Linked DNA regions of Homo sapiens. The protein of the gene in region 7 purifies or fractionates together with the protein of the main gene of each other region. This does not show direct contact. Each region holds a gene or a part of one and is shown on either strand. Other genes may lie near its edges.

What was found.
Region 1: the proteins of ITGB1 (region 7) and FABP3 purify together in Homo sapiens (co-immunoprecipitation; one study listed by IntAct). This does not show direct contact.
Region 2: the proteins of ITGB1 (region 7) and NCAM1 purify together in Homo sapiens (affinity purification with western blotting; one study listed by BioGRID). This does not show direct contact.
Region 3: the proteins of ITGB1 (region 7) and ITGA1 purify together in Homo sapiens (affinity purification with western blotting; 2 studies listed by BioGRID). This does not show direct contact.
Region 4: the proteins of ITGB1 (region 7) and ITGA8 purify together in Homo sapiens (affinity purification with western blotting; 2 studies listed by BioGRID and IntAct, with this or other methods). This does not show direct contact.
Region 5: the proteins of ITGB1 (region 7) and ZDHHC5 purify together in Homo sapiens (co-immunoprecipitation; one large-scale study listed by IntAct). This does not show direct contact.
Region 6: the proteins of ITGB1 (region 7) and CANX purify together in Homo sapiens (affinity purification with mass spectrometry; 3 studies listed by BioGRID and IntAct, with this or other methods). This does not show direct contact.

What each region holds. Positions count from the first base shown.
Region 1 is NC_000001.11:31,366,808-31,370,398, reverse strand, and holds part of FABP3 (fatty acid-binding protein, heart), read left to right. Parts: intron 1-808; coding exon of another isoform or gene 809-841; coding exon 842-1,014; intron 1,015-2,904; coding exon 2,905-3,006; intron 3,007-3,591. UniProt on the Homo sapiens protein: FABPs are thought to play a role in the intracellular transport of long-chain fatty acids and their acyl-CoA esters.
Region 2 is NC_000011.10:113,229,765-113,234,193, forward strand, and holds part of NCAM1 (neural cell adhesion molecule 1 isoform 2 precursor), read left to right. Parts: intron 1-1,431; coding exon of another isoform or gene 1,432-1,509; intron 1,510-1,880; coding exon 1,881-2,031; intron 2,032-2,405; coding exon 2,406-2,590; intron 2,591-2,953; coding exon 2,954-3,050; intron 3,051-3,382; coding exon 3,383-3,553; intron 3,554-4,429.
Region 3 is NC_000005.10:52,863,708-52,868,136, forward strand, and holds part of ITGA1 (integrin alpha-1 precursor), read left to right. Parts: intron 1-1,055; coding exon 1,056-1,144; intron 1,145-1,263; coding exon 1,264-1,375; intron 1,376-1,982; coding exon 1,983-2,110; intron 2,111-4,429. UniProt on the Homo sapiens protein: Integrin alpha-1/beta-1 is a receptor for laminin and collagen. It recognizes the proline-hydroxylated sequence G-F-P-G-E-R in collagen. Involved in anchorage-dependent, negative regulation of EGF-stimulated cell growth.
Region 4 is NC_000010.11:15,516,811-15,521,239, reverse strand, and holds part of ITGA8 (integrin alpha-8 isoform 1 preproprotein), read left to right. Parts: intron 1-1,827; coding exon 1,828-1,950; intron 1,951-3,995; coding exon 3,996-4,082; 3' UTR 4,083-4,429. UniProt on the Homo sapiens protein: Integrin alpha-8/beta-1 functions in the genesis of kidney and probably of other organs by regulating the recruitment of mesenchymal cells into epithelial structures.
Region 5 is NC_000011.10:57,694,685-57,699,113, forward strand, and holds part of ZDHHC5 (palmitoyltransferase ZDHHC5), read left to right. Parts: intron 1-1,235; coding exon 1,236-1,359; intron 1,360-2,076; coding exon 2,077-2,189; intron 2,190-3,874; coding exon 3,875-4,429. UniProt on the Homo sapiens protein: Palmitoyltransferase that catalyzes the addition of palmitate onto various protein substrates such as CTNND2, CD36, GSDMD, NLRP3, NOD1, NOD2, STAT3 and S1PR1 thus plays a role in various biological processes including cell adhesion, inflammation, fatty acid uptake, bacterial sensing or cardiac functions.
Region 6 is NC_000005.10:179,719,199-179,723,627, forward strand, and holds part of CANX (calnexin isoform d precursor), read left to right. Parts: intron 1-469; coding exon 470-583; intron 584-1,205; coding exon 1,206-1,362; intron 1,363-3,605; coding exon 3,606-3,821; intron 3,822-4,429. UniProt on the Homo sapiens protein: Calcium-binding protein that interacts with newly synthesized monoglucosylated glycoproteins in the endoplasmic reticulum. It may act in assisting protein assembly and/or in the retention within the ER of unassembled protein subunits.
Region 7 is NC_000010.11:32,919,874-32,924,302, reverse strand, and holds part of ITGB1 (integrin beta-1 isoform 1A precursor), read left to right. Parts: intron 1-562; coding exon 563-718; intron 719-1,567; coding exon 1,568-1,663; intron 1,664-1,956; coding exon 1,957-2,046; intron 2,047-3,917; coding exon 3,918-4,058; intron 4,059-4,218; coding exon 4,219-4,418; intron 4,419-4,429.

The DNA.
Region 1 (3,591 bases), on a different chromosome or scaffold from region 7:
TCTCTTCTTTCCTCAGCCTTATTCCTAAGGCTTTGAGAGCTTTTCAGGTGCCCTGGAAGGCAGCCTTATGCTCCAGCCTTGGGAGGTAGTATAGCTGAGCACTTAAGCAAGCTCTGGACTCAGACAATTCTGGGCTTCAATCTCAGATTTGTGACCCTGGGCTTTACCTCTGTTTTTGTATCTGTAACGTGGAAACAGTCTTCAGAAGAACAGGAAGAACTAAATGAGATAACATGTACAGTTCTTACTACACAAAAAGCTCATAGTACTTAATAGTAGCTTTTTTTTTTTTTTTGAGGTGGAATCTCACTCTGTTGGCTAGGCTGGAGTGCAGTGGCACAATCTCGACTCACTGCAACCTCCACCTCCTAGGTTCAAGCAATTCTCAGCCTCAGCCTCCTGAGTAGCTGGGATTACAGGCACATACCACCACATCTGGCTAATTTTTTGTATTTTTAGTAGAGACGGGTTTCACCATATTGGCCAGGCTGGTCTTAAACTCCTGGCCTCATGTGATCCGCCTGCCTTGGCCTCCCAAAGTGTGATTACAGGCGTGAGCCACCACACTTGGCCCAATAGTAGCTTATTCTAATCCCAGCTCTGCCACTGACTTGCTATGGCACTGCTGTTCCTTAAGTATCTCTCATCTAATGGGATCAGTTATCTGTGTTCACCAAACAGAACTAAGCGCAAGACTGAATTTTAAAATTCCCATGCAAAGGCTTTGAAAGATACAGTCCTCCACTTCCCCATACCCAGGCCTGAGAGTTATTCATTGAGTTTCTTGTACACTGCTTCTCTACCCCAGCTCATATACTCATAACCTTCCCCCTACCCTCAGGTGTGGGTTTTGCTACCAGGCAGGTGGCCAGCATGACCAAGCCTACCACAATCATCGAAAAGAATGGGGACATTCTCACCCTAAAAACACACAGCACCTTCAAGAACACAGAGATCAGCTTTAAGTTGGGGGTGGAGTTCGATGAGACAACAGCAGATGACAGGAAGGTCAAGGTAAGTCAGGGAAACAGGGGTGGGGAATGGAGAGTGCTGAGACTCTAAAAGAGAATAGGCTGGTAGTCTTGGCTCCCTGGTATTGCACCCTGAGGGGCAGACTATCATGGGGAATTTAAATGAAACAAGATTCATAAAGCCTGTGTAGTGCTGGAATGCCACTGATGCTAAATACATGTCAGTTCTGTCCTCTTGTTTTCTTCCCTCCCTTCTTGGGATTCATCTATTGTCTGCCTCGGAATGGGCAGCACAGAGCCAGGATGTTCTTCTGACCTCAGTATCTACTCCAGCTCCAGCTGGGTGACCCTGTGCAAGGTATGCAGTAGCTCTAGGTTTCTTTCCCCTTCCATAGATGGCAGAGTTATGTGGCCATGGCTGTGACCTGAAGTGCTTTAGGAATGATGCCCAGAAGTCAGGGCCCTCCACTGAGTGAGGTCATTGTGACCTCCAGCAGCAAAAAAGGCAGCCAGGAACTAGAAGCACCTACTCAGATGCCGCTTCAACTTCTAACTCCCAGACATGGCCAATGACCCTGACAAACTATTTCCAGTGTTGCCAGCTGACAGGCAGGAAGAGCTATGTTCCGTGATAGGGCATTCACCTTGTCATGAATGTGTTTGCAGTGTCTTCCCACCAAGCCTTAGCCCCTCCTCCCAGGGTTCTATCACCCTGCAGTGGCTGTCTTGGCAGCTTGCCTCAGCCTTCCAGGCCAGGCATGGGAGCGAGAGAACTTAAGGGCTTTGACCTCTATAGGGTGTCCCTATAGCAGTGTTCTATCATGACACTATCATTCAGCCCCATCAGCTGTTTCCTCTTCCTCATAGCTGTCCCCAGAAAGAACAGGATCACACAGGTGGCTGGCAGCAGAGCTGGGGATGGTGCCCAAAGATGGCAGTCTACCTTGGATAAAGGTGGCTGCCCCACCACCTGCTCATACCTCCTTGGACTTGCCTACTTTCTCAAGGGGCAAGAACCCCAATTAAACACAATAGCCCTGTGGAATGCCTAGGGCAAAAATATCTACTCTGAGTAGGCAAAAAAAACTAGGGGAATGAGAACAAGGAGTAAGGTAAGGATAAAAAAGAGCACACTAAGAGACAGGCCTCATACCCCTTATCACCTAAACAATACACAGAACCTTCTCAGATTCTCCTACTGAACCACCTTGCTCATCAGGATCCCTTAGCCTGGCCTTGTGGCCCCCAAACTCCTAGGAAAGAGAGCTGGAAGAGCTGCCAAATGAGAACCAGCTGATGTATGTATGCTGGCAGCACCCAGAGCTGAGGAACCACTTCAAGGGCATCCAGTCACAGGACTTTGTGGTTGCTGCCCTCTTGTTGGCTAAAGAGGTCACATGATGTGGACCAAGAAAAGGTGTAGGAATACAGGGCAGGAAGTCTAATTATCCAATACTTCCTATCACTAAGGGTCTTTTAGACATTATGTGGACTAACCACAAGGCTGGATAAAGATTCTCAGGACTACTCCTCCTCCTCAGTCAGTCTTTCCCAGGGATAGACTAGTAAATCCCACCTGTATCTGAGGGGACCAGGCTACGGGAATCACCTAGAGTACAGATAAGTGTCTGTCTTGAAGGCTTGTGGTACTTCTCAGAGCCAGGCTCTCTGGCTCCACCATACTGCCTGCCTCTCCCTCCTTGCCTAATATCTGAAGGCCTCTTCCCCAGAAAGGCAGTAGTGGAGCAGAGGCTGGAGGTGAACTAGATGTCTTGCAGGGATAGCTGGGAGGCGGATTGCCTGAGCTCTTGTCCTCACACCATCACTAGTTTGGGTCAAAGGCTGTGTGCTCTGTGGCCCAGTGTCCAGACCCCACCCTGCCCCTCAATTCCTGACTAAGATCACAGCTCAGGCCTCTACCCTCTTTCCACAGTCCATTGTGACACTGGATGGAGGGAAACTTGTTCACCTGCAGAAATGGGACGGGCAAGAGACCACACTTGTGCGGGAGCTAATTGATGGAAAACTCATCCTGGTAAGATGGGCAACTTTGGAGCTATATCTGATTGGTTATTACTACTGCTCTTTCAGCCAAGCCTGTTCTAAAAAGCCAAGTCCTCCCCTGAGAGCTGTAGAAGCTGGGACAAGAGAGTGGTTGTGGGTCAGGGTGGTATCAGGTGGGAATTTTCTGTGTAGTGGCTTTGGACTCACACAGGCCGGAACTCAAATCTTACCTTATAGGCTACATGACTGTGGGCAAATCACCTTTTCCAAGTGCAACTGTAAAACGGGTATTAATAATACCAACCTTGTAGGGCTGCTGGGAAGCCTGTAAGAGACAGTGTATGCACAGCACAAAGCATCACTGATTGAGGAACACAGCAGGTGCTCCATGTCCTTTGTTTGCTCTTCCTGTGTTTCTACCTTGCCTCACCTCAGGAAGAAGTAGAAAACAGGGCCAAATCTGATCCCAGGCCCTCTAGGAGGGGCTCCCATTGCCTATCTCAGCATTCCCTTTCCTCTCCTCCCTAGGACTGCATTGTCACTTGCAGGGACAGGCTCGTGACTGGTGGGGACACTGAATGACAGTACAGTCCTTTCTTCCCCATTCTAGTCCTAC
Region 2 (4,429 bases), on a different chromosome or scaffold from region 7:
GAGTTTATGTCCTTTGTAGGGACATGGATGAAGCTGGAAACCATCGTTCTCAGCAAAGTATCCCAAGGACAAAAAACCAAACACTGCATGTTCTCACTCATAGGTGGGAATTGAACAATGAGAACACTTGGACACAGAAACGGGAACATCACACACTGGGGCCTGTTGTGGGGTGGGGGGAGCGGGGAGGGATAGCATTAGCAGATATACCTAATGTAAATGACGAGTTAATGGGTGCAGCACACCAACATGGCACATGTATACGTATGTAACAAACCTGCACGTTGTGCACATGTACCCTAAAACTTAAAGTATAATTAAAAAAAAAAAGAAAAAGAAAAGAAAATAGCCCTGGAATGTATCAGCACTGTCAGCCCTCAAAAATCCAGTATCTCCAACAAACTGGGTGTCACAAGGCTTTCTAGTGAAGTGTTCCACACCTGTTTGTTGTCATCTCTCATTAATGTGTGGCATCTCCTGGGATGCATCTTTCAACCAACCAGCATCCCAGATTTATAGGTCAAAGCAGAGGATCAGAGAACTCATCCCAGGGAGGAATGGCACTTGCAGAAATGGGCAGCCATGACTTTGCTTGACTCTTCTGTCTTCTTGCTAGAGTTGTTTTTTAGCTTCCAGACATGAAATGCATTGGGGCTCAGATGACCGGAATAGGCTAGATCTGTCAGTGATGGTCCAAGGGACTTTTCATTGGTAAATCTGCTGAGACTGCTGAACAAGGCTAGTGATGCCTTGCTTGTGAGCTTCCTAATCTGGCTGCTGTATGACATTGCAATTCTGGGCTTCAGGGCCCCAAACCAGCATATCCAAAGAACCTGAAGCCAATTGTTCTGTCATTCTTTAAAGACCCAACGCATGGGATGGCAGATGCCAGGTGCAGAATATAACCTCCTGTCCATCCCTACAGAACATCATATACTGGAGACAAGAGGGCCCAGCCTACCCAGAACAAGACCCTTTCTCCAGATCACTAACTTTCTTGAGGATCTGAAGTTAAGCCACATGCCTAGACTCTTCCTGGGCCAGCAACCATTTTACTTAGAATGTCAAGGGGAAATCCCCTTGGAAATACTCCAGTACCCATTGCCTAAGGACTATGTGCTTATTCTCTTTTTGACCAATCATTATAATTCCAGAGATTTAGGAAGCCCATTGCTGTATCAAGGACTATAAAATGGTGGTGGCCAAGGTGTCAAGGATCCCAGACCTGCCTAGGACTCTCTGTGCCATTGTCCCTGGAGAGAGAACCCAGTTACTCTCACTTCCAGTGCAGTGGCTCCTGATCTTTGAGTTGTTTGGCTTGTTTTTACATGTGATTATTTCACTTTTAAACATCCAGGAAAGAGGCATCTGCAGAAATAAGGATTTCTTTAATAATTTCTTATGTTGGGCACTTGGAATGTCCTGCCACAGGTACATGCACCATGGAACTGGCAAGTGGGCAGACAGAAAGGACAGGCTGGCAGTGCAGGTTTCCCAGGATCTCATGAGGTAGGGCTGCTGCTGCTGCTGCTGCAATATCTGCTGGCCGGAGGCTTTGCTTCCATTTTAGACATCCCAAACAAAGTCATCTTGGGGGACCTAGCCCCAAACCAATCTTGGTACTTAGATCAGGCTGCCTGACATAACTGAGTCTCATTTTCTGTTTCGGATACTCCCAGGTTCTCATGCTGCTTCCCAGTGCCTCCCCCATTAGATGGTACCTAAAGTAAGAAAGCCATTGACACAGAGAGGAGAGAGGAAGTGAGACGGGTCACAGACAAGTGATGGCCTAGTCTCCCAGCCCCCATCCTGCCATAGCACTGTTGCCCTTCACCCTGCCTTGGGCTCTGACATGCTCCCTTCCCCCCCACCCCCGGCAGACTCTGGATGGGCACATGGTGGTGCGTAGCCATGCCCGTGTGTCGTCGCTGACCCTGAAGAGCATCCAGTACACTGATGCCGGAGAGTACATCTGCACCGCCAGCAACACCATCGGCCAGGACTCCCAGTCCATGTACCTTGAAGTGCAATGTAAGGAATAAATGGGGAAGGACCTGGGGGAGGGAGGGGCAAGGCAGGGTCAGGATGAGAGAGGAAAACATCAGCAAGGACCTATGTGCACCCTGTGTGTTCTGCTTACGTTCCCTGCAGCTGACCCTGGGCTATTTCAGAGCTCTGTTCCCAAGCCACCCCCTACACACCATCTCCAGGCTTCTTACAAGCCTGCTGTGCCCTTGAGTCTTCTTCCCATGCTGTGCACAGGAATTCTAGAATGGCCCTGACCTCTACTATACCAGGCGCTGGCTCTGCTTTGGAGCACACCTGCCTTCCCAGTGCCAGGAGACAGGATATGGGGGCTTCATAATCATGGCAGTCATCCTGACAGTCATTGTTATTTATTGCAGATGCCCCAAAGCTACAGGGCCCTGTGGCTGTGTACACTTGGGAGGGGAACCAGGTGAACATCACCTGCGAGGTATTTGCCTATCCCAGTGCCACGATCTCATGGTTTCGGGATGGCCAGCTGCTGCCAAGCTCCAATTACAGCAATATCAAGATCTACAACACCCCCTCTGCCAGCTATCTGGAGGTGAGTCAGGATGGGGGTGGGACAGAGCAGAGAAAGCACAGTTTGACTCTAGGTGGGCTCCAAAATGCAGCTCAAGTCCTCTCTCCTGCTTCTCTGGCACATCCTGAGCAGGGAAGGCATGGGCTAGAGAAGACACTGAGCCTCTTTTCAGCTCCCCTTCGCCCACTCTACCAGTCCCCTCCCTGAATGTGCCTCTCCCATGAGCCCCTCTGCTATTCTTTTCTCTTGTTTAAGGCTGGGCTGGAGCTAATGATTTATACTTTACTAGTTCTGTTTTTTACTAACTTAATTCAGTAAATAAAGATCTGAGTCTGTGACCATCCCATAGGACACTTGTAACCCAATAGCTTCTTCCTTCTAAAGGTGACCCCAGACTCTGAGAATGATTTTGGGAACTACAACTGTACTGCAGTGAACCGCATTGGGCAGGAGTCCTTGGAATTCATCCTTGTTCAAGCAGGTGAGTGTCCCTTACTCACCTGAGAGCAGCTGCCACAACCCCCCACCTAACCCTGCCAGCCCAATTTGTGTACTTGAGTGATTCCAGGATATTGGGAAGAAGAAAGGGCCAGGGTCAGCAAAGCCAGAGAGTTGGGAAGCTGGGAGCCATTGGATCAGCGCATGGGGCATGTTGGGGGAGAAGCATCTGGTGAGATGGGCCAGGAGGACAGGATACAGTGACAGGATTCCCAAGAGTGAGCAGAAATGACAGAGATGTGCCTTGTGACTGAGAGTTAATGGTCTTGGGCCAAACTGGGCTCACCTGAGTCTCCATATGTGTCTTCCCCACAGACACCCCCTCTTCACCATCCATCGACCAGGTGGAGCCATACTCCAGCACAGCCCAGGTGCAGTTTGATGAACCAGAGGCCACAGGTGGGGTGCCCATCCTCAAATACAAAGCTGAGTGGAGAGCAGTTGGTGAAGAAGTATGGCATTCCAAGTGGTATGATGCCAAGGAAGGTGAGTTGGGCGAGTTGGTGTTTCCATTGGGATCATGAGTGCCTCAGTACTCAGATGTCCCCACCTGCCATCCTGGGCATGTTCCTACAGAATCAGGAACTGCACCTCCAGAATTAGGTCAAAGTCATATCTGCCTGTAGAGTTGTTGCCCCTATTGCCACCCCAACCCATGCTCTGTGCTTCAGAGCCTGGTTCTCATGACCCTTCCAGTATGGATGAAGGCATCTGTACCACATTCCAGGCAGGAACCTTGTGTAGGTTCTGAGCGCAGCCAGATGAGTCCAGCCCATAGGTTCTGAGCATGGCCAGATGAGTCTAATCCATCCTACTCTGCACGTTTGAGTTACCTGTGCTGCAGGTTCTCTGCCGACACCCGGCCAGTCCTGCTTGGATATCTGTACTCAGGGACTGGCTGTCTTGTAATTGTGATAGTAACCAAATAAGCACAGCCAGCAGGACAAGTCTGCCCTTAAATCAGTCCTGTGCTAGCTTTCCAAGCTAAAGATTAAAAGACTGACCCTTGGATTACTGCAGTGTGAAGATTCTGAGCCCAGATCATCTGAGGATAATGTGTGCTTATGTTGGACTCCCCTTTTTGGGTTTAATTGGAATAACTCAGTGAAGTATGTTTTGTTTCTGTACAAATTTTTAATCCTGGTCTCGTATGTGGTAATTCGAGTGGAATTGGAAGTAGGCTGGGATATCAGTATCACAGCCATTCAGAGACATAGTCCAGTGCAGTTTCACTCAGAATTAGTTCTGCCAGAAAGTTTCCATCACTTCTTCAGCTTCTCGGGGGAGCCAGGGGGCCGAGAGGAGCTGCTGGGTAATCAGGATTGGAGCCAGAAGAAAGCAATCACTTTGCCTTCCTAACTT
Region 3 (4,429 bases), on a different chromosome or scaffold from region 7:
GTTTTAAAATTAGGCTAGAGATTTTAGCCACATCAAGTACAGTAGGGAAGTTTCCACTGTAGTCCCTAATTGTCCCAGGAATGCTTTTTCTGGGTCAAGCTTTGTATATAAAACTCTAATCCAGATTATACAAGATCAATGCATACAATCGCCCAGCTCTAGGTGCTTTCAAAGCAAACCAGACTAAACTCTTGGACAAAGGCCATTGCGCAGATCAGGAAGTCTAACTGACCATTCCAGAATCTCTGCTTCCATTCCCCACTTTAAATCCACATACAGTCTTAACATGAAAACAACCTCTGGAACAAACAGTGAGACAAATCTTTCTCAACCTGAATTTTGCCTCTTTCTAATATTCCACTCTACTAAGCAGATTTAGAAGTTCTTGTTTTTCCTGTCCAGTCTTTTTTTCTTTTTTAGTGTGAGAAAGTGAAACTTCTTGCCAATATTGTTAGGCTGGCATGCTTCATGCTTCAGGACCCAACATTCCCTTCAGAATGTCAAATGCAGTCTCTTTACTGTGTTTCCTTTATCAAAACTTTCTGGACACTGCTCTAATATTCCTCTAGTTTCCTTTGTCACCCAAAGGATGTCCTCATGATTTTGGAAGTCATGGTCAAAAAACTGGTGTTTGAGTTTTCTTTTCTGATCTTCTACCCATTTCCCCTTTTCTTGCCAAAAATCGTGTTTCATCACTGGTCATTTATAACAAAGTTATAAGATTACATTATATCTACAGTATTATGAGATTAAAAACTTTGCTTTAATTAGCAAGAACGTGCAAAAAGCAATCCCACATTCTCATTGCCCTGCTAGTTCTGCATTCTTTCACAGTTCAGCAAAACTATCTGAAATAGTTTCTGGGACATGAGCCAACTCTTCAGCCTTAGCTTGTTCATTATATTCCTTAAGAAGACTTGGAAGACTAATTAGTTGAACCAAAAGAAGAATGTGCTATGATATGAGCAAAACAAATAGAATGTCTTAATGAGAGATGCTTAAAATTTCACTTTGTGAAACTTTTCCTCCCTCATAAAATTTTGTTCTATTTTTAGTTAATACATCAATTCCCAATGTCACAGAAGTAAAGGAGAACATGACATTTGGATCAACTTTAGTCACCAACCCAAATGGAGGATTTCTGGTAAGAATGGAGAGAATGATATTTATTGACAACAGATATGCTATCATTTTAAGTCTTTGTAAGATCTGTTATATAATTTTCAGTCTAATGATTTCTAATTTTAAAACAATTTTTTAAAGGCTTGTGGGCCCTTATATGCCTATAGATGTGGACATTTGCATTACACAACTGGAATCTGTTCTGACGTCAGCCCCACATTTCAAGTCGTGAATTCCATTGCCCCTGTACAAGGTACAGATTTTATGCAATGTTCTTGCATGTTTGAAAAGCCTATGCAATGAATGAGACGTATGTATACAAAGGAACATACCAAAAAGCTTAAAGTATTTTCTTAGCTACCAGCATTACCAATTTAGGTAAATGTTTGCTTTGCCAGTATATAACAAAATCTGACTGCTATTTTTGGAATTGATATTAGTGTAAATAACTTTACAAAGTCATTTTTAAACATCATAGATAAAGCTGTCATGCTGCTTATATTTAAAGAATGAGTCTCTTTGAAGAAAGAAGTAACTTCATTTGAGATATGCTCAAAAACTGTTTTATAAAAACTTATATAAAATTCATATTGAGAAAATTTGCAAAGATAACTCTCATACAATACTAATTAAAATTCAGTAGGTATGAATTTTATCCCACACCAATTGTTATTGAAAGCAATGAATATTTTTATCATCTTTACTTTTTCGAAAACTATTTTTTATTGCTAAAACAATGTGTCTACTTTGGAGAACATCAGTTCATCTTTTAAAATGAACTTCTTTCAGCCATGAAAGCACTTCATATGCCTCTGAAAAAAATAGATTCCAAATTTGACAATTGACTCCTTTTATTGCAGAATGCAGCACTCAACTGGACATAGTCATAGTGCTGGATGGTTCCAACAGTATTTACCCATGGGACAGTGTTACAGCTTTTTTAAATGACCTTCTTGAAAGAATGGATATTGGTCCTAAACAGACACAGGTATGTGACTTTGTGTTTTGATTTCTGTTGTTCTAAAGATAAAAATGCACAAATTTTTAATAAAACCAAATATTCTGAAAGCAAATTAATCAATAAAACTAAAGTTGAGAATGAATTTTATATCCATTTCCTGTTCTTATTTCTGATAAAAAGGACATTACTTTAAGCTGTGTTATTTTCTATTTTTTTCTTTTTTCTTTTTTCTTTTTCTTTTTTAGACAGAGTCTCACTCTGTTGCCCAGGCTGGAGTGCAGTGGTGCAATCTCAGCTCACTGCAACCTTCACCTCCCAGGCTCAAGCAATTCATATTTCTCAGCCTCTCCAGAAGCTGGAATTACAGGCATGCGCCATCACACCTGGCTAATTTTTTAAATTTGTAATAGAGATGGGGTTTCATCATGTTGGCCAGGCTGGTCTCAAACTCCTAGCCTCTGGTTGATACACCTGTCTCTGCCTCTCAAAGCATTGGTATTACAGGCGTGAGCCACTGTGCCCAACCTAGGCTGTGTTATTTTCTAAACAGAAAATATTATGAAAGCTGCCATTTTTAATGCACTTGAAAAATAACTCCTATAGAGTTCTATAAACTCATAGTTTAATTTTTACTTAAAATGGATATAGCCACTTTTGGTAATGTCAGAGCCGGGTGTCAGAGTTTGTAAAAACTAATCTGACATCCCAAACAACCCATCACATTATAATCTCTCCTCTCATATTATACAAATAAGTTAGTAACTGACCAGAGGATACTACTTAAAGCCTGTTGTCCTTTCTGTTAATAATTTCTTTTCCCTAAGTTAAAAGAAAATGCCCCTGGCTATCTCTGCATAAAATCAAATAGTTGTTTGTTTATCCCCCCAATTAATATCTATTTCTAAACACATCTCCTTTATTGCCACTAAATGAAGTGGAACTTCTCACACAGCTTTTCCACTTTAGATACTGAGTTTAATTTAATTACATTTAATTAAATACATTTGACTGATTTAATGTTTATTAAACTCATATGGGCATATATATTAAAATACAGGGCAGACATAATGGATAACAGGCAAATAAAATGTCAAAATGAAGTCAATGCCTCAGGTCAGGAATTAGCCCTAGAATCAGAGCCTAAAAGATTGTTGTGTGGTTTGGAGGCTGTAGAGAGCATAGGAGACTTTAAGATTATAGTACTGCAATCAATACAGTGATCTTCCTTTTTTTTTTTTTTTTCTGAGGACTTTACTTTGGGAGAAGTTTCTGAGGCACTGAAAAAGCAGACTGACTGCGTTAATGTTTGCCACACCTACATTAAATTTGGAACATAATATGTGCACATATATATACATACATGTGTCTTCATGTGTCTGTGTATATTTATGTCTCTCTTAATATTTTGATATCTATGTATATATAATTTTCTAAAAGGATGGTGGTTGAAAATTTCAAAGTTGAACTCAAACTTCAAAGTGAAATGTATTGCTGCATTCCAAGGCTGAATAGGTCTCTGTAGAGAGTGAGTGGAAGGGTAAGGTTATAAATATCCTGCTGGACAATAGAGAACTTGTTGAAATCAGTGTAAAATCATTAAAAATGAAATGGGCTTTTACGTATCACAAAATGTAATTTTCCCTGGAAGTGACTTATTTGCAATTGACCTTCTCAAGTGAAATTACTAGTGGATGGTAGGGGACCTTTTTATCCCGTCTTGCTACAGGGTACAGGGCAGCCTGCATCTTAACAGACCAACTCCAGGATGTGACTTGCTCTTCCTTCTGGCACCTGTTCCTCATGGACCTCCTTTTTTCCCTTCTGAGACCACTCTTCCTTCCTCCTTTCCTCGCTTCCCCTATCCCTTCTCTCCTTGGCCAATAAGATAGCATAGAGTCATAAGATTAAAGCTGGAAAGAATCTTAAAGGTCATTTGGCCCCCAACCTCAATTTATGAAGGAGACACGAGAGGCTAACTGATTTGTTTAAGGTCTTTCTGCTTGCTGATGGCAGATTAGAACACACACAGCTCTCTAATTGTAGCCCAGTTTGCTGTTGTTTTTTTTCTTTCTGAGGGCTCTACTTCTAGAGAAGCTTCAGAGCCAGTACCATCTAATGCCCCTGAATAGTAGATTTCAATCCTTTTCTATTTCATGAGGATGACTGTCCTCATCCTTCCTCAGGCAGCCTCTTGGCTGAAACCGTGCTAGGCTTGGCAATGACTCACTGCCTGGACTAATACCTTAAATGAAATGGCTTGTGTTCCCGCTTTCTCCACTTTTGCCCATGATGTGCTTTCTTTCCTTCTTCTTGTTTTGTCCATCCCATTTGATCTTCTTACCTAAC
Region 4 (4,429 bases), about 17 Mb from region 7:
CCAGCCTGGCCAGAATGGTGAAACCAGGTCTATACTAAAAATACAAAAAAAAAAATAGCTGGGTGTGGTGGCACATGCCTATAACCCCAGCTACTGGGGAGGCTAAGGCACAAGAATTGCTTGAACCTGGGAGGTGGAAGTTGCAGTGAGCCAAGATCGTGCCATTGCACTCTAGCCTGGGCAACAGAGTGAGACACTGTCTCACAAAAACAAAGAAACAAATACACAAAAGAAGACAGAGGCAACAAAGTGAGCATGGTTAGGGCTCAGTGCTAGGGTTCAGGCTGTGAAAACACCAATACATTTCCTGCTAGGGCAAATCTCAGAGCCGCCAACCTTAGTCATTAGTCTCAGCCTCTCCTGACGGGTGGGTTATAGAATGTGTCCTGGAGTTCTTGAGTGTGTTTCAGGATTGAAATGATCCTTTCAACCAACACAATTAAAACTAGGAGACCTTAGACCAGCTGAGTGGAGGCAATGCTTGCCACTCTGATAAAACCGGAATACTACGTTAGTGAATAATGTCTGCATCCAAGAATAATGTAGCGCTCTTTTCTTTGACAAAAGGTTTTAGCAGCATGGCTGGGTCTCTCCTTGGGAATCTGCAGCTTCTTTGCTGCCTCGGCCTCCGGAGGCACAGGCCTCCAACACAGGAGCAATAGAAGTGCTTCTGCCCACATAGGGAGTGGTTCATAGACACTGAGCATGCAGTCAGATTGGGAAGGTCTCATTTTCCTCTAAGCCCCCTTGCAACAGTGCGGGATGAAATGGGCTCCAGTCCCCATATGATCTTTGTTTTTGTGTTTTTGTTTTTTGGCGGGAAGGAGAAAGAAGAGTGTCACCCTGTTGCCTAGGCTGGAGTGCAGTGGCATGATCTTGGCTCACTACAACCTCCACCTCCCAGGTTCAAGCAATTTTCGTGTGTCAGCCTCCTGAGTAGCTGGGATTACAGGTGTGCGCCACCACACCCAGCTAATTTTTTGTATCTTTAGTGGAGATGGGGTTTCACCATGTTGCCAAGTCTGGTCTCGACCTCCTGAGCTCAGGCAATCCACCCACCTTGGCCTCCCAAAGTGCTAGGATTACAGGCATGAGCCACCGCTCTGGCCTGATCTTTGGATTTAGGATTAAAGTCATCTCCAACGCATCAAAAAAAATTGAACATTCACTTTGCACACTACAGTTACTTCCATAAAATACAAGATGCCTAGCCTCATGCTCTGGGATATCCTTCACTGATACAGCACAGAATCTAGGGATAAAGAGACCTAGTATTGACACTAATTCGTTGTGTGAATGAATCACTTAGTCCCTCTGGGAGTTAATTTTCTCACCTGTAAAATGAGGGGATTAGATTAGAGATTTCTACCCTTCTTGCACATCCAAGGATTCATGGTTGTTCACAAGCTTACCTCTCTCAATGAGGCTAGCTGAGTTCTAAGGAGACACATGGTAGACAGATTCATTCAGTTTTTTATTGAGTCTACTTTTGGCCATTGTTCCCATAAAAGTTCCAGCCCAAGTGAAGGCCATTCCTTTCCACCTTGTCAATTCCTGATGCACTCAATTCTATTCTAGGGTTTCTGTGATGCAAAGCCACCCACCCACCAAATCTCTAATTAGACTTTTACAGAACCAAGCAGATCTAGGAACATGCTAGCTTTTAAGAGTTCATGTTCGAGTGCTACCTCTCAAATATCCCCTAGATGATTTCAATTGTCATATGGATCCTTTCAGATCAACTTCCGATGTTGTACTGGTAATTACTATTTTATTTCACCAAATAGTTTTCGCATTAGAGCTCATTTGCTTTGTTTTCCATTTCAGATTAAGACATCAGTTATTTGGGCAACTCCGAATGTTTCCTTCTCAATCCCATTATGGGTAATAATACTAGCAATACTTCTTGGATTGTTGGTTCTCGCCATTTTAACCTTAGCTTTATGGAAGGTAAGTTGATTTACTTTGTTTTCCTTTTAAACTAGAGGGGCTGTTGAGGGAATTTAGAGGGATACAGTTAGGGATTTTAAAAGACAATTATGGAGGCATTTTTGGAAATTTTGAACAGTCTGAAGGATATAAAGGGAAAATCGTGTCTTGTTTGCTTTGGCATACTTAATATGTTTATATAGCTGACATTTAAGATGACTAGAGGTGCTTAATGTTGCTTTCATCTTGAGATTTCTTGTAAATAAATGTAGAGAGAGTTAGGCTGTATTAACTAAGGCCTGTGATCTTCTTTCCAATATGCTTAGAGTGATAATATTCTAATGAAGACTTCTTTTTCTTGTTTAATTAACCAAGATCATAAGCTTTTTATTGACATGGCCCTATCATCAATCCTTTGACATTTTTTATAAGCACTATGCAAATGCAATTAATATAGGTCAATTCTGATTTTTAATTTCAACTACTAATGAGGCCAAATAGATTATGCATGTGATAGGATGCCTGGACTTGGTTTTTAATCTTGCCAATTAGTTTGTCTCCACTGGGAAGCCTGAACTTAGTCTTTGATGTGTTTTACTGAGGTTTGTTCTAAAAGTCCACAACAGGAATTAATTTCTGGCCCACCAACCTAAACAATTGCCAAGTTTCACAGAGCCTTCCATTCCCAAATGGAAATGACGTCCCAGTTACATAAGAGTAATTAACCCAGTCACATCTTTGATAACTATGTGGTTTTCCCTAAAATCATAGTGCGCTTTTATTTTGAAACAATATGCAGCATGACTAATAGACCTATAAACTGAGAAAACCTTGGCTTTGAGTTAAGGAATGGCGTTTCTGATCGTTATCAGCTCTTTGTGACATCCTACACCCATGTGGTCTATGACATGCCTTTAGAATGGACTTTTGTGTTGTTCTGTCACTCATAGTAACTGTATTTCCAATGAGTATAAGATACAACCATGTGTGCCAATTGACAGGATATTCCAGTAGCTCTGAGAAAGAGAGATGACTCAATGTCTCTAAGCCAAACCCAGTTAATTGGCTTCCAACATGAGAAACAGAAGAAAGAATTGAGGTTCCAGGTGTCTAGGAAAATATGTAGTTTACTTGGCAAAGTACTAATTTGACACTGAAGAGGAGGAAAATCCTAGAGTCACCTCTTCCCTGAGTTTCTGGCTAACCTTTGGAAAGTCACTAAGATTCTGTGCCTACCTGGTTCTGGCATTGAAATAAGTGACAAATCTATTCTCCCTCTATATATGCTCTATGTTCCACCAAGCACCGAGGGATGTGTGGCCATCTCTTCACTTCTTTCTATAATCCACCCCAAAGCAGCTGACAGGATACTTTAGGAGACAATCTCCTTTTCCTAGTCAATAGTTAGTGCTTCTGCTCCAGTAAGCATGTGGGAAATCCTTGGGACACATTGCTGTGATCTCAGGAAAATATCCAAGGTCCATAAGTGGTTTGTATGAAAGAGGGACATCTTCCACTCCAACTACAGGACAGGAGAAAGGGTGTGAGCACTCTGCCCTCCTGCTCACCTTGCCTATGCAATAAACTCCTCTCTACAAGTAACAAACACTCTGCTCGAACCTCCTAATTTGGAGAAACAGACTGATTATACGTGCAGAGCTCCAGGCTCCTTCGAAAATACATAAAGGGCCAGGTGTGGTGGCTCACGCCTGTAATCCCAGCACTTTGGGAAGCTGAGACAGGTGGATCACTTGTGGTCAGGAGTTCAACACCAGCCTGGCCAACATGGCAAAACCCCATCTCTCCTACAAATACAAAAATTAGCTGGGTGTGGTGGTGCAGGCCTGTAATCCCAGCTACTCCGGAGGCTGAGGCAGGAGAATCGCTTGAACCGGGAGGCGGAGGTTGCAGTGAGCCAAGATCACGCCACTGTACTCCAGCCTGGGGAATAGAGAGCGAGACTCAGTTTAAAAAAAAAAAAATACATAAAGTGAAAATTCTTTGAATGAGGGGTTTCACAGGTTCCCAGAATGACGTGATTTTATAGCCCATCTTTCCCTTTATAGTGTGGATTCTTTGACAGAGCCAGACCTCCTCAGGAGGACATGACCGACAGGGAACAGCTGACAAATGACAAGACCCCTGAGGCATGACAAGAAAAAAAAAGAAGACCAAAGACCTCAAACACTGGTCCTGTTCAAAGAAAAAGAAAGAACATGAGGGTTAAAAATCAAAGCTTTCTGATACCTGACAGTGACCCAGGAAATGGAGGGGACCCTGGAAACATCACCTCATCTACACCGCACTTTGGAGAAATTGTCCTGGGTGCCCAGTGAGCCCTGTTGGAAAAGGAAACACCAAAGCTGGAGAAGCCATCAGCAATTGTGGAAGATTTTCTTTTGCTTTAATCGTTCTGTACTTGGCAGACACTTTGAAATGCGTATGGGAACGTAAGTTGCAGTCCAGATCAATCCAGCATAAGTTGCAGAGATGAAATGTC
Region 5 (4,429 bases), on a different chromosome or scaffold from region 7:
AACAATAGAAAATGAATTCATTCATTTCCATGTCTTCATAGGACTTAACAGCTTACAGCTAGATGGTAGGAGCTAAACAAGTAGTTGTTGGTTTAAATGGGCAAATAAGTGACAGAATTAAAACCTTTTTTAAACCCTTTCTTCTGCCAGGTACAGTAACTCATGCCTATAATCCCAGCACTTAGCGAGGCTGAGGTGGGAAGATCGCTTGAGTTCAGGAGCTCAAGACCAGCCTGGACAACATAGCGAGACTCCATCTCTAAAACAGACTAAAATAAAAAATAGAAAAATTTTCTGGCTGGGCGTAGTGGCTTATGCCTGTAATCCCAACACTTTGGGAGGCTGAGGTGGGTGGATCACCTGAGGTTGGGAGCTCGAGACCAGCCTGACCAACATGGAGACACCCTGTCTCTATTAAAAATACAAAATTAGCTGGGCATGGTGGCGCATGCCTGTAGTCCTAGCTACTTGGGAGGCTGAGGTAGGAGAATTGCTTGAACCCGGGAGGCGGAGGTTGCAGTGAGCCGAGATCATGCCATTGCACTCCGCCTGGGCAACAAGACCGAAACTCCATCTCAAAAAAAAATTAGCCAGGTGTGGTGGCACATGCCTGTAATCCTAGCTGCTTGGGAGGCTGAGGCATGAGAATCGCTTGAACCTGCGAGCCAGAGGTTGCAATGAGCCGTGATCACGCCACTGCACTCCAGCCTGGGTGACTGAGCAAGACTCCATTTCAAAAAAAAAAACCCAACTTTTCTTCATCTAATGCTATACCCAAACTGATTCTTGTGCCTTGTCTTCCAGTATAGTTGAGAAATATATGATAGGCAGTGGCTCATGTCTATAATCCCAACATTTAGGGTGGCCAAGGTGGGGTGATATTGCTTGAGGCCAGGGGTTCAAGACCAGCTTGGGCAACATGGCGAGACCCCCATCTCTACAAAATAAAGTAAAATAAATTAACTGGGTGTGGTGGCATGTGCCTGTAATCCCAGCTACTTGGGAGGCTGAGGTGGGAAGAGCACTTGAGCCTAGGAGTTGCAGGCTGCAGTGAACATGATCATGCGTACCACTGTACTCCAGCCTGGTCAACAGAGTGAGACCTTGTCTCAAAAAAAAAAAAAAAATACATGAGAATTGACTCCCAAATACCTCCCTCTTATATCAATTTAATACTTTGAGTTGCCATAATGCTCAATTTCTAAATCTGATTTTCCCTCCCTTCATCAATCCAGTCTAAGGGAAGCCTGGAGATAACAGAGAGCCAGTCTGCAGATGCTGAACCTCCACCTCCTCCTAAGCCAGACCTGAGCCGTTACACAGGGTTGCGAACACACCTCGGCTTGGCTACTAATGAGGGTAAGGGCTGCCTTGATTTGCAAGATACTAGAACTAGGGGCAGGATTGAGAAGGTTGCTTATGAGCTGTGGAAGACAGGCAAGGGCTGGGAGATATTACTCGTGTTGTGACTTTAAACACCCAACAGTTGGTACTTGTGCTACTTTGCAACTGAAAGAGAAGAGAGGCCATTTAGCTATTGGCAGTGAATGGGACTTTTGCCGGGAAAATGGTCAGCCTCTAGGCAGACCAGAGAACATCACAGAACCTTTTTGGTGCATTTACCCACCCTGAATTCTGGGCTGGTGTGAGTCTTTAAAAGTCTTGATTTCAGCGAAGGGTATATCTATTCCTACCTTGTCCTCTCCCTGTACTTAAGGAACCCTAGGCAGATAAAGTGAACAACTCATAGACTAGACGCAGTGGCTCACACCTGTGATCCCAGCACTTTGGGAGGCCAACGCAGGAGGATTGCTTGAGCCCAGGAGTTCAAGACCACCCTGGGCAACATAGCAAGACTCTGTCTCTACAAAAAATTTAAAAAAGTTAGCTGGGCATGGTGGCATATGCCTGCAGTCCCAGCTACTCAGGAGGCTGAGGTGGGAGCCCAGGAGTTCAAGGCTCCAGTGAGCTATAATCGTGCCACTGCACTCTAGCTTGGACAGTAGAGTGAGACCCTGTCTCTTAAACCAAAAAACCGCTTGTAAAATAGTGCCCCCTTGGCCTTTTTTCTTGCAGATAGTAGCTTATTGGCCAAGGACAGCCCCCCGACACCTACCATGTACAAGTATCGGCCGGGTTACAGTAGCAGCAGTACGTCAGCTGCCATGCCGCATTCCTCCAGCGCCAAGGTACTGAGTACTCTAAGAGGTGGGGTAATAACATGCCAACTGGCCAGGCACAGTGGCTCATTCCTGTAATCCCAGCACTTTGGGAGCCCAAGGTGGGTGGATCACAAGGTCAAGAGATTGAGACCGTCCTGGCCAACATGGTGAAACCCCGTCTCTACTAAAAATACAAAAATTAGGCCAGGCGTGGTGGCTCACGCCTGTAATCCCAGCACTTTGGGAGGCCGAGACTGGTGGATCACAAGGTCAGGAGTTCGAGACCAGCCTGGCTAATGTGGTGAAACCCCATCTCTACTAAAAATACAAAAATTGCCGGGCACAGTGGCTCACGCCTGTAATCCCAGCACTTTGGGAGGCTGAGGCAGGTGAATCACGAGGTCAGGAGATTGAGACCATCCTGGCTAACATGGTGAAACCCCGTCTCTACTAAAAATACAAAAAAATTAGCCAGGCATGGTGGCAGGTGCCTGTAGTCCCAGCTACTCGGGAGGCTGAGCCAGGAGAATGGCGTGAACCCAGGAAGCGGAGCTTGCAGTTAGCCGAGATCATGCCACTGCACTCCAGCCTGGGCAGCAGAGCGAGACCGCATCTCAAAAAAAAAATAAATAAATAAATACAAAAATTATCTGGGCGTGGTGGGGGGGCACCTGTAATCCCAGCTATTCGGGAGGCTGAGGCAGGAGAATCACTTGAATCTGGGAGGTGGAGGTGGCAGTGAGTCGAGATTGCGCCACTGCACTCCAGTCTGGGTGACAGAGTGAGAGTCCATCTCAAAAAAAAAAAAAAAAAATTAGCTGGTAGTGGTATGCATCTGTAGTCCCAGCTACTTGGCAGGCTGAGGCAAGGAGAATCGCTTGAACCTGGGAGGAGAATTGCTTGAACCTGGGAGGTGGAGGCTGCAGTGAGCTGAGCTCCCACTGCTGTATTCCAGTCTGGTGACAGAGTGAGACTACACCTCAAAAAAAAAAAAAAAAAAAAAAAGGCCAAGCACAGTGGCTCAAGCCTGTAATCCCAGCACTTGGGGAGGCTGAGGCAGACGGACCACCCGAGGTCAGGAGTTTGAGACCAGCCTGGCCAACTTGGTGAAACCCTGTCTCTACTAAAAATACAAAAATTAGCTGGGCGTGGTGGCGGGGCGCCTGTAATCCCAGCTACTCGGGAAGCTGAGGCAGGAGAATCGTTTGAACCTGGGAGGCTGAGGTTGCAGTGAGCCAAGATTGCACCATCACGCTCCAGCCTGGGCTTAAAACACACACACACACACACACACACACACACAAACAAATGCCAACTGTTACGGGAAAAAAAGAAGATTAGGGGAAGGAAAAGGCAGAAGAAAGGACATTTCACTAATTGTTGGCATTCGTGGAACTCAATCTCCTTGATACTGTGTCCTTCATCAGACTGGGCAATATAGCATAATAGATTAGTGCTTGATCCGAGTTTATAACCCAGTTCTGCCCACGGGCGAGATACTCAGCCTTTCTACGTCTTGCTTTCTGTATCTGAAAAGGAGATGATATTTGCCTGAATTCAGTTTTTCTTGAGGGATTAACCCAGATAATGCATGTAAGAGTTCTAAGCTTATTATTGGCACATAATTCTCTTTTTGACCAACTCCTTGAGCTCTGGGGTCTAGCTTCTGTCACAAAAGGAGCACTAAGAGCCTGCTTTACTTTCTTCCTCAGTTGAGTCGTGGGGACAGCTTGAAGGAGCCAACCTCAATTGCAGAGAGCAGCCGTCACCCCAGCTACCGCTCAGAGCCCAGCTTGGAACCAGAGAGCTTCCGTTCTCCTACCTTTGGCAAAAGTTTTCACTTCGATCCACTATCCAGTGGCTCACGCTCCTCCAGCCTCAAGTCAGCCCAGGGCACAGGCTTTGAGCTGGGCCAGTTGCAATCCATTCGTTCAGAGGGCACCACCTCCACCTCCTATAAGAGCCTGGCCAACCAGACACGCAATGGAAGCCTATCTTATGACAGCTTGCTCACACCTTCAGACAGCCCTGATTTTGAGTCAGTGCAGGCAGGGCCTGAGCCAGACCCACCTTTAGGCTATACCTCTCCCTTCCTGTCAGCCAGGCTGGCCCAGCAACGGGAAGCTGAGAGGCACCCACGTTTGGTGCCAACTGGCCCAACACACCGAGAGCCCTCACCAGTCCGTTACGACAATCTGTCGCGCCACATTGTGGCCTCTCTCCAGGAACGAGAGAAGTTGCTGCGCCAGTCACCCCCACTCCCGGGC
Region 6 (4,429 bases), on a different chromosome or scaffold from region 7:
ATGAGCAGTACCATTTTACTTTCCCACCAGCAGTGTATGAGGGTTTCAGTTTCTCTGCGTTCTTTCCAGCATTTGTTTTTATGAGTCTTTTTTATTAGAGCCAACTTGGTACTAAGTGGTATCGTTTTGATTTGCCATTTCCCTGATGGCTAATGATGTTAAGCATCTTTTCGTGTGCTTATTGTATGTTCATATTGTATATTTTTACATTCGTATGTCTTCTTTGGAGAAATGTCTATTAAAATCATTTGCCCATTTTTAAATTGGGTTGTCTTTATATTATTGAGTTGTAAAGAGTTATTTTACTAGGCCCTTAGCAGATATATGATTTACAAGTATTTTCTAAGAGGAATTATTTTAAATTTTGAGATTAAAAACAAATTTTTTTAGAATACTCTGTTCTGATCCACAAAGTGGTACTATACTGTGACCAGTGTTGTCATAACTGGCTTTTTCTTTTGTATTTAAGGGATGAAGATGCCCCTGCTAAGATTCCAGATGAAGAGGCCACAAAACCCGAAGGCTGGTTAGATGATGAGCCTGAGTACGTACCTGATCCAGACGCAGAGAAACCTGAGGATTGGTAAGAACTTCAGTTAACTTTTTTTAATTACCTGGTTTTTTTGTTTGTTTTTTTTTTTGAGATGGAGTCTCACTCTGTCTCCCAGGCTGGAGTTCAGTGGCGCAGTTTCGGCTCACTGCAACTTTCACCTCCTGGGTTCAAGTGATTCTCCTCCATCAGCCTTGCGAGTAGCTGGGATTACAGGTGTGTGCCACCACACCCGGCAAATTTTTGTATTTTTTGTATTTTTAGTAGAGACGGACTTTCACCGTGTTGGCCAGGCTGGTCTCAAAGTCCTGACCTCAAGTGATCTGTCTGCCTTGGCCTCCCAAAGTGCTGGGATTACAGGCGTGAGCCACCACACCCAGCATAAGTTACCTGTTTTTATTGAAGTCAATCTTAATACTTAAATATAGCCAAGTTCCCTAATTTCAGGGTAGAATTTGACAATTTTAATTATATTTTCTTCTTTTTTAAAAAATAAATTTTTCCTGAAAAACTGTTATTACTGGAAATACAGGAGAAGCTGGTCTGGGATACTGTGAAAACATTTCAGCAGGATCTTGGCAGCCCTGGGCCAGCCAGCTGTTCATAGTCCTGCATCACAGAACCTGTTTATAATTTGTTGTTTGTACCTCCGTAGGGATGAAGACATGGATGGAGAATGGGAGGCTCCTCAGATTGCCAACCCTAGATGTGAGTCAGCTCCTGGATGTGGTGTCTGGCAGCGACCTGTGATTGACAACCCCAATTATAAAGGCAAATGGAAGCCTCCTATGATTGACAATCCCAGTTACCAGGTTTGTGCCTCTTGATGGTTGAGTTGCTTTCATTAATCTGTTTGTATTCAGATAGAAGTTTTATCTAGAGTAAGGCTGCCAGGTTGGTCATTATATTCAAGCTGTTGAATTAAAAGCAGAAAGTAGACTTCCTAAGTTGAAAGAGAGCTTAATGGGTTAGGTATTGCAAAGATAAACCTAGAAACTGGAGTGAATAACTTTCTTTAACTTTATTTATTTATTTATTTATTTATTTATTTTTGAGATGGAGTTTCGCTCTTCTACCCAGGCTGGAGGGCAGTGGTGTGATGTCGCCTCACTGCAACCTCTGCCTTCCGGTTTCAAGCGATTCTCTTGCCTCAGACTCCCGAGTAGCTGGGATTACAGGTGCCTGCCACCACGCCTGGCTAATTTTTATATTTTTAGCAGAGATGGTGTTTCACCATGTTGGCCAGGCTGGTCTCGAACTCCTGACCTCGCGATCCGCCCACCTCAACCTCCTAAAGTGCTGGGATTACAGGCGTGAGCCACTGCATCTGGTCAACTTTCTTTTTTTGAGACTGAGTCTCACTCTAGTGGCCAGGCTGGAGTGCAATGGCTCAGTCTCGGCACACTGCCACCTCCACCTCCTGGGTTCAAGCAATTCTCCTGACTCAGCCTCCCGAGTAGCTGGGAGCACAGGTGTGCTCACAGGTGTGCTCACCTCACCTGGCTGATTTTTTGTATTTTTAGTAGAGACGGGGCTTCGCCATGTTGGCCAGGCTGGTCTCGAACTCCTGACCTCAGGTGATCCACCTGCCTTCGCCTTTCGAAGTCCTGGGGTTTCAGGCGGGAGCCACTGTGCCCAGCCAAGAATAACTTTCATAGTTGCTTTGTAACTATATTTAAAAACAAAAGAGAAATGGAAAACTGTTGATTTGGGTACCCTGCTCTTGGGTGCTAGGGTTGCTTCAGCCATAGGATCCACAGCTGAGTCTGGACAATCTGTGATGTGGTGGGTAGAGGACTGTGGTTTGAGTCAGCATCTTGACTACATCAAGTCAGCTCACTGCTTGGCCTCAATGCTTGCAACTATAAAAAGACTGAGGCCCAAAAGAGATGGTAAGGATACAAGTAGTAAGGTTGTGAGGCTTTAGGCCTCATGCAAAAATGTACACCCTCAGACCTTTGTTCCTTTTATCTTTCTAGCCAAGTAAAATTATTTATAATCTCTACAAAGAGTGGCAATTAAAATTATTTATAATCATTAATTTCTACTTTATTTATATACAAATACTAATATATGTATATACATATACAGAAACAGGAGAAGCTGGTCTGATACTGTGAAAACATTTCAGCAGGATCTTGGCATAGTATATGTATATATACATATACTAATATATGTTTTTCTGTTTGTAAATTTTTTATTTTTTTCCTCATAGTCGTTAAAGATGTTATGTGAATGTATTTTTAATTGTGTAGTCAAACAATAAGATAAAAGTTTTACTTTAAAAAAGTTGCCCTTTAGGCTGGGCGTAGTGGCTCACGCCTATAATCCCAGCACTTGAGAGGCTGAGGTGGGTGGATCACCTGAGGTCAGCCATTCGAGACCAGCCTGGCCAACATAGTGAAACACCATCTCTACTAAAAGCACAAAAATTGGCCTGGTATGGTGGCACACACCTGTAGTCCCAGCTGCTTAGGCACGAGGCTGAGGCACAAGGATCACTTGAACACAGGAGGCAGAAGTTACAGTGAAAAAGAAGTTGCCCTTTAGTTGTTCTCCTGTTGGTGGCCATTTAGGTGGATTGTCACTTTTGCTTTCAGAGTCACTGCTGCTGTAATAATCCTTGTACATGTCTGGGTGTATGTTGTGAGTATTTCTCTAGGTAGTTATCTAGAAGTGAATTGCTGGTTGATGATCATGTGCGTTTTATTTTAAATCACCACTGAAGAAGTACGTACTGACTTATGCTCCCACTCTCATTAGCAGTTGCTAAGAGTGGAGGCTGTTGAATGGGCCAGGAACTTGAGGGGTTGGTTTGGACCAAGGTCATGGGTGACAGTAGAAATTGGAAGTAGTTGGAATCCTGCAGTCTTAGAGGCAGAGTGCGTAAAATAATCTGTAGCATTTGTTATTTATTTTCCTGTTGCTTATTTCAAGTTTCATGAAGTTGGCATTTCTCTCCATTGTTCATGCAAAATTTCTCTTACGGTAGATTCACCATAAACTTTTGTTGATCATTATCTGAAATGATTTTCTGAAACATTTTTTTTTCTAGGGAATCTGGAAACCCAGGAAAATACCAAATCCAGATTTCTTTGAAGATCTGGAACCTTTCAGAATGACTCCTTTTAGTGCTATTGGTTTGGAGCTGTGGTCCATGACCTCTGACATTTTTTTTGACAACTTTATCATTTGTGCTGATCGAAGAATAGTTGATGATTGGGCCAATGATGGATGGGGCCTGAAGAAAGCTGCTGATGGGGCTGCTGAGGTTCGTGTTTGCTGCTTGTGCATTTGTGTCTGTTATTGTAAGGAGCTGTTATTTTGTGAAAGTCTGTGTTAAGGTTTTTTTTCTTCATTTGGCAATATTGGCATAAAAAGTATAACCATATGCCTGCAAAAGACACAATATTGGGTTTTGGGGCATGATTTCATTAGTCTAATGTAGTGGCTTTAGAGTCTGTTTGTGTTCAGGGTTTTTTTTTTATTATTTGTCTGGGTATATATTTCGAAATTTGTCATTTAGGCTATATTTTAATACACTCTTATATGTTGAATCTCGGTTTACACTACATACAGAATTTTCAAACAACTGGTCATGTGGCCGATTTAAGAATTGGAGAGCCAGGGATACTGAGATAAGAAATTCACTGGATCCTGAGGTTAAGGGAGCCTTTTGCAGGTGATGTAGAAGCCAGCTTTTGCACCTATGAGAGTGAAATCATCTTGATTATAAGGAGAGCAAGAGGATGGAGGCTTTCTCTAATTTCTTTTTTACATTTTATGAGCATTTTCTCTGAAAAAGAAGGTCCTGCGTAGTGCCATGCCATAACTGAACTGCAGAAAAACAGCACGGCCTATGTTTGGTGTCAAAAGCTG
Region 7 (4,429 bases):
AACAGTACTGATTGAGGAGTTAGAATGGGTGAAATTATCCTTAAACAAGATACTTATTTCTGTTATAAAAAAAGGAAGCCTCATATGGTGGGCTGATAAAGAAGGTGCATGGCATAGAACATAGAGCAGAGATGGGTGGATGGGGACAAGACAGCAGCAGTGGGGTAAAGTAAGGATAGGCTCAGACACTTTCATTTATTCAGCAAATGCTCATCAAGGGCTTACTGCTTGCCAAGCAGTGTGCTGGCTTGCTAGCTGCTGGAGATATGATGATAAGCAGAACTAAACCAAACCAAACAAAACAAAAAAACAGTTTTTAAAAAGAACTGAGAGATTGAGAGATACGGATGGTCAGGCAAGATATCGTTGTACATGGGATGGAAGAGCTTCATTCAGTGGGCTTTGTGTGTTTCTCAGCAAGATAATTACCATTGTATAAAGAGAAGACACAGAAAATACAGAATTAGGTTAAAAATACAATGGTGGCCTATATGAAAATTAAAGGATTTTTGTTGAATTACTGTGAATAGTGTTTTAAAATTGAAATCCTTTTCTTTTCAAGTCACTGATTGGCTGGAGGAATGTTACACGGCTGCTGGTGTTTTCCACAGATGCCGGGTTTCACTTTGCTGGAGATGGGAAACTTGGTGGCATTGTTTTACCAAATGATGGACAATGTCACCTGGAAAATAATATGTACACAATGAGCCATTATTATGTAAGTGCCTGGTTCCTTACATAGTGAATGTGTTTATGTTGGATTTTAATGTTTAATACTAAGAGCTTGTGGGTGACTGGCTTGGGGTTTCTCAGGGTTTGAGGTTTTGCTGTTTTGGTAAGTAGGGGTCCTGATTGAAAGTGCAGGAAAGCTAGTGTTGCTGTTTGTGAAGATGCAGCTTTGTATTTGCTTCCTTCTGCTCAGACAAGGGCCTCACTGGGGTGGGAAAGGGATGCCCAGATGCCACTTTCACTCTTTGCCTCAACTCCCCGCCCACAGCATTTGGTAGCACAGTCAGTACTCTTTCTAAATAAATAATTTATCTAGTCTCATACTCTTTGTTTTATACGATTTTTAAAAGCAGTCACTCTGCCTTTATTGAAAATAAATATTGGCAAAGCATTCAAGTTCTAGAAGAAATCCAAATGGTAAATCTTGGTCTTTTTCTTAAGTTGTAGATAATAGAATATTTAATTACTGACTATTCTTTAATTTCATTGTCCTTATATTTAATATACATAGATAAACTTACTATTTAAAACCTTTTGAATATGGAATTTTTTATTCATACATGAAAGTAAAGAGAAGAGGATTAGCAATTCATGTATACACACGACTCACTTCAGCAGTTTATATTTGATACTGTTATTTGAAAGCAGTCTTGTAATCTAGTTATATGTATGCAACTAGATGTAATCTAGCTATATATGGATTATATATGTAATCTAGTTATCTAAAGCAGTCTTGTAATCGAGTTATGTGTAATCTTGCATGTATAACTAGATTGAAAAATTAGAAGAGATTATAAGGGTGTATTTAAATACTAAATTATATTACTTGATTTCTTAGGATTATCCTTCTATTGCTCACCTTGTCCAGAAACTGAGTGAAAATAATATTCAGACAATTTTTGCAGTTACTGAAGAATTTCAGCCTGTTTACAAGGTAAATGTGTGAGATAAAAAGAACAAGATTCTAAACATTTTTGATTGTTAGAGGCAAATCATGTCTGAATTGAAATGTGGGAAAATGCCACCAGATAGGCAAACCGAATTTTACAAAAGTGGTTTATATTAATTTTTAATCACATATTATAAAACTGGTTTCTAGGTTTGACTCCTAAAGTTAGTTAGGAGGAAACATGGGAACTGGCATTTAAAGATAAAAGTTGCTCAGTGGATCCTAATTGGTTGAATGAATAGCAGTTGTATTTTACGTGTTTTATCTTTTAATTGCAGGAGCTGAAAAACTTGATCCCTAAGTCAGCAGTAGGAACATTATCTGCAAATTCTAGCAATGTAATTCAGTTGATCATTGATGCATACAATGTGAGTACATCTTAAATAAGATCAGTTTTGGACAATACCCTGTTGAGAATACTTTGTACAAAGAAAGTAAAACTTCCTTCATACACACTTTAGCGAGCCCAAAGTACTACAGAAAAACTTAAATTCTGTATGTATCTAGAGGAAAAACTTTATACATATTGTCTTACAAAAGCAAGATTCATGGCCTAAACAAAGTGAAAATGTGATAAAGGCATGTGGGGAGTATTTCCAAATAACTGTTTGTTTATCATTAAGGAATAGATCTCCTTGTTAGAAAGCAATTGTAAAACATAACTTACATTTAAACTTACAGGATTTCTCCAATCTTTTTCCTCCCCAAAATATCCTTTATAGAGTCATCTATTCTGATGAATTGTGCTAGAAAAGTTTTTTTTTTTGCCAATTCTTCTCTTCCCATATATTCAGAGGATATGGGTTTCTATTTCAGGAGGTACACACTCATATATACGTATACCATAAAATATATAAAAATGTAAATATACATGTGATTTGCCTATTTCAAAAAGATTTATAGTGTTGTTTTCCCCTCACAGATGGGAGGAAGTTGAATTGAAATTAAAGAGGAATTGGCTTATCCTTTTTGAGCATAATTCAGTGTACTTTAATCACACCGAGTTAGCCTTCATTAATAATCATTTAAATAATCTGAAGGCGGTTGTAATTTGGTAGGTAACCCTTGTGTGTCTCGTGCACCACTTTCAGCCCCCATCCCCCTAACCCTTTGGCAGCTTGAATTTTAGACATTTTTACTTCATGTCATGGGGGTACCATAACGCTTTGGAAAGGCCAGCCTACCATATGAGGCTTCCCTTTTTTATGGGGTACCATAATGGTTTGGAAAGGCCTGACTTGGAGGGGTTTTTATAAAGGTTTTTAATATTTTACTTGTTCCACAGCTTTTCCCATTCTCCCCTGTCTTAGATAATTTTCCTAACTCTTGTTCTTTCAGGGGTGTGAACAAGAGATAGCTTGCCATTGTACCCTTCTCCATTTGTCCTGAATAGTCTCATATGTTAAACAAGCCCTGGCTTGAATCCTTCCTTCTTGGGGGATTTTGTTTTTTTTTTTTTTTGGCTGGGCTACAATGGTTCCTTAAGCAAATTTGTTCCTAGACTGCATAGTTGATTGTTTACCCTAGTCCATAGTTAGCTGGAGAGGTAGGACTACAGAAATGCCATTTTGCCGATGGGGAAGACAGCATTTATTTCGTTTTTTTTTGGGGGGTTTCTGTTTTTGTTTTTGTTTTTGTTTTTTAGATGGAGTCGCACTCTGTTGCTCAGGCTGGAGTGCAGTGGTGTGATCTTGGCTCACTGCAACCCCTGCCTCCCGGGTTCAGGCGATTCTTCTGTCTCAGCCTCCCGAGTAGCTGGGATTACAGGTGCACACTGCCATGCTTGGATAAATTTTTTTTTTTTTTTGTATTTTAGCGGAGATGGGGTTTCACTGTGTTGGCCAGGCTGGTCTCCAACTCCTGAGCTCAGGCAGTCCACCTACCTTGGCCTCCCAAAGTGCTGGGATTACAGGTGTGAGCTACCACACCCGGCCTATTCCACATTTTTAAGACTCCTCCTAATTAGTAACAGCCCTCTGCACTGTGTGATCCTGAGTATTTTAACTCAGTGATTAAAACAGGAATACTCTTTTCAATTGTGTATTTTATTTTAAAGATTTGATCCTTATTAATTAAAACCTGTTTCTCTGGCCTCTGTGTTTTCTAGTTACTCAATTGGATTTGGCTTGTAGATACTTTATTGAAATATATTTTTTTCTGAGCAGTTTATCCATTGGTTTTATGCATTCAAGTAGCATTTTGTTTGACTTTTCCTGTGTATAATTAGGCATTCTTTTAGTCCCTTTCCTCAGAAGTCATTTTGGAAAACGGCAAATTGTCAGAAGGCGTAACAATAAGTTACAAATCTTACTGCAAGAACGGGGTGAATGGAACAGGGGAAAATGGAAGAAAATGTTCCAATATTTCCATTGGAGATGAGGTATGTTGTATAAAGCATTTTCTGTAGAAAACATTGGTTATTTATAAGCAAATTTAGTTTATAGTTTGAGAAACATTAAAATAAGTGAGCAACTTTTTGAAATATTTTTTAGTAGATTTAAATTGTTTAGTTGGTTGTTAATCTTTTTTTTCCCTTCAAGGTTCAATTTGAAATTAGCATAACTTCAAATAAGTGTCCAAAAAAGGATTCTGACAGCTTTAAAATTAGGCCTCTGGGCTTTACGGAGGAAGTAGAGGTTATTCTTCAGTACATCTGTGAATGTGAATGCCAAAGCGAAGGCATCCCTGAAAGTCCCAAGTGTCATGAAGGAAATGGGACATTTGAGTGTGGCGCGTGCAGGTAAGCTGGGT